2 linked regions of the Homo sapiens genome follow. The protein of the gene in region 1 purifies or fractionates together with the protein of each later gene. This does not show direct contact. Each region holds a gene or a part of one and is shown in the gene's direction. Other genes may lie near its edges.

Region 1 (4,498 bases):
GCTGACGGCCGAGATTGAGAATGCCAAGTGCCAGGTGGGGTCTGTGGAGGATTCAAATACGCAGCACAGGCAGGCTGCAGCACCTGGCCCTAATCAGGCTTCACAGTGTGCCCATGAGGAAGCAGGGACCCAGAGGGAAGGGAGGGGCTCTATCATATTTCACAGCAATCAGACCATGTCACTGACTTCCAAAGGAGGATCCAGCCCCTTCCTTGGCCACCCTGTGACCGCCATCAAGGAGAGATGATGAAAAGCCCACCCATCTCCTCCCTCATATTCACAGCCCCATTAACTACCTGGCCACGGGCCAACCTTCTCTCCAGGACCCTCCTCTCCCTGCCCTGGCTCCATCAGCTTGGGTGAGCCAAGCTGTGGCTTCTCTTTCTCATCCTGGCCCTTGTATCTCCACCTGATAGCGTGCCAAGCTGGAGGCTGCTGTGGCTGAGGCAGAGCAGCAGGGTGAGGCGGCCCTCAGCGATGCCCGCTGCAAGCTGGCTGAGCTGGAGGGCGCCCTGCAGAAGGCCAAGCAGGACATGGCCTGCCTGCTCAAGGAGTACCAGGAGGTGATGAACTCCAAGCTGGGCCTGGACATCGAGATCGCCACCTACAGGCGCCTGCTGGAGGGCGAGGAACACAGGTGGGGCTAAGAGGACTTTGTGGGGTTTCAGAGGTGGAGGCTGTGGTCCTCCAGGAGTGAATTTCCTTGAGCTGAGTGTGAGCTACAACTCTGGCCATGGCTAATACAATAGCTTCAATAATAATAATAATAATAACTGAATGCTTCTGTGCTAGACCTGTGCTAAGTGTTTATTTTATAATCCTCACAATCCAATAAGATAGATATGGTTTTTCCCATCTTTTTATCTTTAGATAAAGAAGCAGGCTCAGAATTCAGTGCCTTTATCATGGCTACGCAGTTAATAAGCAGAAGAGCTGGGACCTGCACCCAAGTCTCATGCCTCCCAAATCCGTCCTTGTTGAATAGCTTCCTACTGAAGCTGCTGCCACACAGGCCTGTGTGTTATGATGATGATGCACTTCTATATGCATTTAGCTCTTCATCAACCACAAAGCCCCTTCACACCCTGGTGTATCTGATTCAACTCTCCTTCCTGTGAGCTTGATTGGCACCATCCAGGCTGGCCACCATCACTCAAACTAGGGGCACTGTTCATAATCTTACCCACTGCTGCTGAAAATCAGAAAGCCTTGTCTTCATGGTTAAAACCATCAAAGAAAGAAAGCATTTAATGCAGATTTGAGGGAGCCCTTCTTGCCTTTCAGGGGTAGACTCTGTACACAGGATGACCCTCTCTGTCCCCAAGCAACCATCAGTCTCAAGGAATCCAACTCAGTGTCTGGAACTAACAGAGTTTTCTTTCTCCATAGGCTGTGTGAAGGTGTGGGCTCTGTGAATGTCTGTGAGTATCTGCCTGAAATTCTCCTGGAAAAATGGCTTTTTTGATAGAAAAGCTGAACTCATTGGCCTAACCCATGGAGCCTCGAGTGTTCCCCCAACTGTTTCACCCTCCCCTGGCTCCTCAGTGGGGGCCATGACAGGTGTTAGAGAAAGCTGAGCTGAGTGCTCTTCGCAAGTGTTGACAGTGAGCTATAGGCCATGGACCTGTGGCCTGGCAGCTTTGCTCCCCGGGGTCCAGGGGTCCTCACTTCCTTCCTGCCCCAGTTCCCTAGATGGGCTGTGCATCTCAGGGACAGGGCCTGCATTGTTGACCACCAATTCCTTGGAGAGGGAGGCAGCTCCTGCAGTGCCCTGGGGCCTGTTGTAGGGTGGGTGAGATTGCAGGGAGCTGCTCACCCCTCCATGTCTCCTCTCTCCACAGGTGTCAGCAGCTCCCGTGGTGGAGTCTCCTGTGGGGGCCTCTCCTACAGCACCACCCCAGGGCGCCAGATCACTTCTGGCCCCTCAGCCATAGGCGGCAGCATCACGGTGGTGGCCCCTGACTCCTGTGCCCCCTGCCAGCCTCGTTCCTCCAGCTTCAGCTGCGGGAGTAGCCGGTCGGTCCGCTTTGCCTAGTAGAGTCATGGAGCCAGGGCTTCCTGCCAAGCACCTGCCTGCCTGCATCACTGCACTGAATGGCATGTGAATGGAAAATGTGTGCTTGCTTCCAGAATCTTCTGGATGTTCCTACAGAGGGAAAGACCTACAGAGGGAAAGACCCTCGGGCCGCTCCCCTGCGCCTTTTCATGCTAGGGAGATGCATCCTAGTTGTCCTCCTGGCAGCTGTTTTCAGAGGCATTCCCAGCCCTTCACTTAACTCCTACTTAGCTCCAAAATACCTGTATCCAATTTGTATTATTCCCCCAGCTCTCAGGGACAAGACCAGTCCCCCAGCGTGGTGGTCAGCACGGAAGCTCCACCTTCTGGGTGGAGGCGCCATCCTAACCATCCAGCCAGGCCACCCACAACCCGAGAATCAGGGAGAAAGTCCCTCCCCAGCAGCCCCCTCCTCCTGGCTGGGAAGAATGGTCCCCCAGCAAGCACTTGCCTGTTCATTCCTGTTCATGTTTTGCTTCTCTCTCAGACTGCCTTCCTGCTTCTGGGCTAACCTGTTCCAGCCAGGCTCCTCATGTGACCTCGCAGTTGAGAAGCCCATTATCGTGGGGCATCCTTTTGCCTACAGCCCCTGGTTAGGGCACTTTGGACAGGTCTTGCTATTCAGTGAACCTTTGTACATTTCAAAGAAGACTCCATGGCTGCTCCAGATGCCCCCTTGCTGGGTGCAGGTGGGGACTGTCCAATGCAGAGCTGGCGGGACAGAGAGTTAAGCCACTTCCTGGGTCTCCTTCTTGTGACTGTCTATGGGTGCATTGCCTTCTGGGTTGTCTCGATCTGTGTTTCAATAAATGCCGCTGCAATGCAAGAGCGTGTGGTCTTGTGAGCAACTTCTCCACTCCCTTCTTGCCTCATCTCCAGATGACCAATCCCAGTCCAGCCCCATGCAGTGTTTCCCCAGTCACCCCCCAGAAACTCTGCTGCTTCCTGTCCACTTCCACAGTCTGATTCCACTCAGTCGCCCTCAGTCCCCTCAGGCCTGGACTACAGCCCAGCTCCCCACTAATGACCTCTTTCTCCCTGACCCACCCTGCGTACTCCCAGCAGCCAAAACTCCATCCCAAACTCACTGCTCTCACCCTCTCCTGCCTGGCTCAAGTCACTTCCTGGCACATGTGTGTGCTTCTTATGCCAAATGCAGGCTTCCTCTGTCACCTCCTTCCCCAGCTACTCCTCAGCCCTGTCCAACCCCTCCATGCGGTGCTCATCCTCCCAGTCATGGACTCCACCCCAAGGAGACAAGTCTACCCTCTGAGGCAGCCCAGAGACACTCTCTCCTACATACCCCTTGTGGACACATAGGCCATCCCACATCCCTCCTCCCATTTGCCTTTGCTCAGGGCCCTCCTCTGCTCCCCAAAGCTACCACCCTCACCCCTACACCCCCCAGCCCTCCCCCGCCCCCATCATATAGTGTCTGGAACCCTGAGAATCTCTGGTTTTGTCTCTGCGGATCTGGGCCAGGGATGTCAACGGGTGTGTCTGGATCAAGCTGGAAATTCCATAAGGACAGGAAGTATCTCCTCCTGGCTCTGACCTCCCACTGAGTCCCAGGATGGGGCTCCAAGATATGCCAGGCCTGGGATGTGCTGGATGAATGCAGGCAGCTGGTGCAGCAGGAGGTAGAGACATCCAGTCCTCTTGCCCTCAGCTCCATCTCCCCATTAGCTGTCACCGTCATCAAGCAGGTGTCTGCCAGCCCCCTGCTGCCCCATCCTGCAGCCTCTTTCTCTGAGAGGAGAAGATAGGGCCTTGTGCATCCTCACTTTAGGCCCAAAGGGCTGTAGCCCCACTGGAGGCTGCTGGCTGCTTCTGAGTGCTTAGGCTGCTGCTCTGTTTGAGGTTTGCTGGCTGACACCTGGCGGGCCTCCTCCAGGTCTCTTGCCTGCTGCCTCCTTTTTCCCAGCTGTTTGGGCCCTGAGGGCATGGTGACAATCACAATAGGCCAACTTTCAATTTAGGGGACATCATTCACCCACAGGAAACGTTAAATCCCAGGGGCTGAAACATCAGGAAATGGAAATTTGAGCCCCAATTCTGCCAAGACTGCCAGGTCTCGGTGAGTCCTTGGGCAGGAAGTGGCTTTCATGCTTTGCATGTCAGTCTGGGGTCTATGAGATGAGTGGGTAGAGTCCTTACCAGGTCTGCTGCCTCCTATGGTTCTGAGATGCTACAGAGAGTCTATGCTTGGGGAAAACAGCTTCATGTTACCATGGATCTGGGCTGAGCAAAACAAAAATGCCAAATCTGATACCCAAAAAATAACGGCACCATGGATTGAAAAGTCAAACAGCCAGAACCTGGGAGATAGGAATGAATTTTTTAATACATTTCCGTGCTTTGTGTGCAAATACCATTCAACAGATTCAGCTGGCCAGAGGTGCCTTTTGCTTATGGGGAGGTAAGCCTCTGCCCCAGCCCTCC
Region 2 (4,504 bases), on another chromosome or scaffold:
CATCTACATGAGAAGCTCATCAACCCATCCTAATGTCCTACAGCTAAAAGGGCCAAGCCTAGGTTCAGATCCAAGGCCATCTGATTCAAAGAGCATGTACAATGAAAGATTTAACAGCTCACATCAGAAGAGGAGGTGTTTGCAGAAATAATTACTGTTTAAAATAATAACTGACCTTCTCGATATGTTTCCTCTCCAGGTTCATGACTACCTCCGCAGCAAGCTGTGTTCCCTCTATGAAAATGACTGCATTTTTGATAAATTTGAGTGTGTGTGGAATGGGTCAGACAGGTAAGAAAGGCTCTGTGGCTGAAGAACCTTCCAAAGATTGTCTTGAAGAGGCTCAGGGAATTTATCCTAAGTAGAGTACAGCCAAAGGGAGGTCAAAATTGGGCCCCAAAACCTGGCTGAAATGCATAATGTGGGCCCCTAGTGACCCTTGAAGTCAAGGCTGGAAAGAAGAGAAGGATGTAGTAAGGCCTTTGAATCCTGTTTCTGAACTGGCACAGATAACACCTTAATGTTAATAAGAAAGTCCTATCTTTTTCACACAAGACACCTCCAGCACTAGGTCAACATGCCTAAATGAAGATCACTTATCCACCAGCAAATTCCAGCCTGAACAGTTCAGATTAATGCCAAGTAGGCTTTCCAGATCAAAAATTATCCCTTGAAGCTGCTAGTGGAGACCTGGCCAACGGCCCTGGTAGTTCATTAACTGAATTCTAGTCAACCTCATTTATCACATTCCCTCAAAGTGATTTATTACTATTTTAAGGCCTTTGATTTGAACAGTGCTTCATAATACCTCCCAATAGTTCATTTTTAGTTTGACAAATACAAATGATTCTCTGATTTCCATGAGAACTAAGTGCAAGCTACCAGGGGCTGATTTCGTTCCTTGATGAAGGTGGCACCAATAATAGTGTTTGAAAGCATAGAAATTCTGTTATGGCAAGACATTCAGAGATTCAAGCTTTCAGTGAATATGAACTGTCTCTCTCTCACACTCCACCTGTTTCTTGGCTTTCTTTGCCACTGATCCAAAATGAATCCCCTCCTTAGCAGGCTTGGAAGGAGTCTCCACGTGGCAAAGGACCCAAGTCACACTGACCAGTTGGTATAGGACAGAGAGCAAAGCAACTGTGACATAAGAACAAAATCCACCATGGGAAAAAGAAGCCAGCCCTCTCATTTTATTATTTATTTATAGGTATTTATTTATTCATATATTATTATTTACATATCTGTTATTATTGCTCAAGTTTTTCCTCTATCTTAGCCTTGATTCAAAAATTACACTTATTAGGCACCTACTATATACCAAACACATTCGTACACATCATTTTATTTAATCCCAACCACAGTCTAACAAGATTGCTTCCATCGTTCTCATTTTACAGTTAAGGAAACTGAGGCTTAGCAAGATAAAGTAATCTGCCCAACCTCATAAAGTAGTAAGTAGTAGAGACAAAAGTAACAAGTTTAGAGTTTGAATCCTAAGATCAACACTCTTTCTATAACATCACAACTGGGAAGTTTAATTTCTCTTTCAGATAAGGTTGGTAGTCTTTTTTTTTTTTTTTTTGGAAAATAATCTCTTACTTGTTTAAAAATAAGTCGGGTCATGGTGGGCAAGCAAACGTCAAAGTATGGGAAGCAGTGAGGCCAACCGGCTGAATACTTATGCCCCAGAGTCAACCATATGTGGGTTTGAGGGTGGACTTTACCACCAATTAGCAATGTGACACTGAGCAAATTACTTCTCTGTAAAACCCTTTTAGGGGATAATAGAAGTTGAAACGAGATCATGGAGGCAAAGCCCTCAGCGCCCTGCCTGACAAGGTGATAACAGTCCACTCGAGTACACAGACACAGTTCACAGTATCAGTTTGATGAGCCAGAGTAACAAAATCTAACCTTTGCTTAATTTACCTGGTACAGGTGACAACGTGCCCAAAAACACATCCCCCTTGCTGTGGCCCAATCTTGTCAGCTTTTTCCTTCACCTCTCTACACATCCCAAATCATTTGAGAAATACACGAGAGTTCCTGCTCTCCCATCTTAAGGAGCCAGTCAGAGCTCCACCCAGAAATGAGTAGGAGCCCCCCACTCCAGGGGAACCACCGTGTGATGGCACTTGGGGTACTTGCCCTGGCCCAAGGAATCTCTCCCTCCCCACCTCAGCTTGTCACCGTGTCTGAAATGTCACCATTAAACATTCAGTACCTTGCCTCTGGAAGACATTGGGTGTTTGCCACTCTCCTGATCGATTGCAGCTATGCCTAAGAGGGGATAACTTATAAAAATGTGGAAACCATCTGTCCATTAAGTGTGGGAAAAAAACCATATAAAATCTTTTTATTTCTCCATCCCAGATTCTTTTAAAATTTGAATTTCCTTACTTGTTTCCTAGATAAGACCATGATGACATCCATTTCGTAGATAAGTTTTCTAAAAAGGCCGAATTCAGAGCTAGTTCTCGGCAGGGGAGAGGTCGCGCCCCGGGTTCGTGCACGATGCCACTAGCATCTCTCCCCTCACTGCACTGATGCCATGAAGCCTTAGAGGCCAGACGGCCCAGGAACCCTGTTGACAGTGGCCAAACCTTAAACACGTACAACTGCTTATTGTTTTCAAAAGTGTGTCTACTTCGACAAACCTCATTCTAGTCTCACATTCCTGATGGGAGGTAGGTAGGACTGGGATCATTAAAACCAGTGGACACCTTTTCTGAGCCAAAGAAGCAAAAAGAATCTATTGAGCAAAAGCAAATTACAAGGAGAGTTCTCACCATCCCTCATTTCCAAACCCAGCCAAAAATCCTATTGCTTTCAGTGATTCAAAAAAAAAAAAAAAAAACACAAAAAAAAAACAAAAAGCCAATAATCACACTGCAGAGCCTGTTCTCATTTTTTGGTTTTTGTTTTTAATAAAACCTATGGTGTCATAAGCTGGCCATAACATGGTATCATTTGCTCCAAAAAGAAAAGACAGTGAAGATATGTCATTGCCTTTGCTCTCTGCCTTGCAGTGTCATCATGACAGGCTCCTACAACAACTTCTTCAGGATGTTCGACAGAAACACCAAGCGTGATGTGACCCTTGAGGCTTCGAGGGAAAACAGCAAGCCCCGGGCTATCCTCAAACCCCGAAAAGTGTGTGTGGGGGGCAAGCGGAGAAAAGACGAGATCAGTGTCGACAGTCTGGACTTTAGCAAAAAGATCTTGCATACAGCTTGGCATCCTTCAGAAAATATTATAGCAGTGGCGGCTACAAATAACCTATATATATTCCAGGACAAGGTTAACTAGGTGGACAAGTTATTACTTAATAATCTCACATACTGAATACTAGTCAAACAAGTTTTTAAATGTTTCTTTGGGTCTTCATTTGATGCATTGACTTTAATTTCCCTATACAGGAAATGATTGGAATAGAATTAAAAGGAGTCCAACATTCCCAGCTCCCCAGTTCTAAGAAACTTTTGTCAAACCCAATAGGTTTGGGACACTTCTGTTTAGAATTGAAAGCTGCCAGCTAACAGTAATTCTTCCATAGTTGACTTGAACTTCTGATGCTTTTATTGCCCAGTTTTCTCTGGTGGGTCCAGTGTTTTGTTCCTAGGTGTCTGCTGCGATAAAATGAGGTTGTCTGTAGTATTTAAGGAGAAAAGAGATAAGTTTTTTTTAATTAAGCAATTCCATTTGATTGAAAAAAATCAACAAAAAATAAACACCGTTTACTCTTAGACAAATTCTTCTTGTTTTGTGAAAAACCAGAACTAGTCAGTATCTCCTGCCCCTCCACCATTTTTTTTTCCATTTTCCATTTTCCTTTGAACAATTTCATTTAAGCCAGAGATTTATTGCATGAAGCTGAGAAGAGGATGCAGAATGACAAGGAAAGGGCACATCAACCCTGCTATGCTCTTTTTTTGTAAGCTCCATAGAAACAGCCTGAGAATTTGGCTAGGGAACTTGAATGCTTCAGGGGACAGAAAGAGAGCACTTTCGACACAGTGCTTCCCAGAGTGAGCTTGGCAGGGCCAGGCGGGGCCAAATTCCATCTGCTGCCTTGTTACTCTTGCTTTTTGTGCTCTTAAATGGCTCCATATAATCTTCTACTTACATGTTCCTTGGCTTTTTTCTCTTCAACCTTTTCCAGCTTATTTATTCCATTGACTTCTAAAGGCCGAGTCCTGGGTGCTTATTATCTGGTGTTCTAAATGAAGCAGTAAGTTGGAAGCAGTGCCACCACCCCTGAGTCCCTGAGAAAGGCTGGTCTGTTCTTTTTGGGTGTTTCTCCTAAGCAGCACCCTCCCCTCCTCCTGGTTTTGGTAACCAAAAGTAACAATCCATCAACCTCCATTGTACCTAGAACAAAAATAGCCAATAAAAACGCTGAGTTGTGAAGTCCAATCAGGCACTTCTAACTCACCCCAAGCTCGCCATCTGGAAAAACAGACCAGAAGGCTCTCTTCTACAGAAATGAACTGTGGGG

Evidence for each region.
Region 2: the proteins of KRT85 (region 1) and PPP2R2B purify together in Homo sapiens (pull-down; one large-scale study listed by IntAct). This does not show direct contact.

The regions. Positions count from the first base shown.
Region 1 is NC_000012.12:52,358,390-52,362,887, reverse strand, and holds the end of KRT85 (keratin, type II cuticular Hb5), read left to right. Parts: coding exon 1-34; intron 35-416; coding exon 417-637; intron 638-1,389; coding exon 1,390-1,421; intron 1,422-1,841; coding exon 1,842-2,035; 3' UTR 2,036-2,882; downstream 2,883-4,498.
Region 2 is NC_000005.10:146,588,758-146,593,261, reverse strand, and holds part of PPP2R2B (serine/threonine-protein phosphatase 2A 55 kDa regulatory subunit B beta isoform), read left to right. Parts: intron 1-199; coding exon 200-291; intron 292-3,035; coding exon 3,036-3,315; 3' UTR 3,316-4,504. UniProt on the Homo sapiens protein: The B regulatory subunit might modulate substrate selectivity and catalytic activity, and might also direct the localization of the catalytic enzyme to a particular subcellular compartment.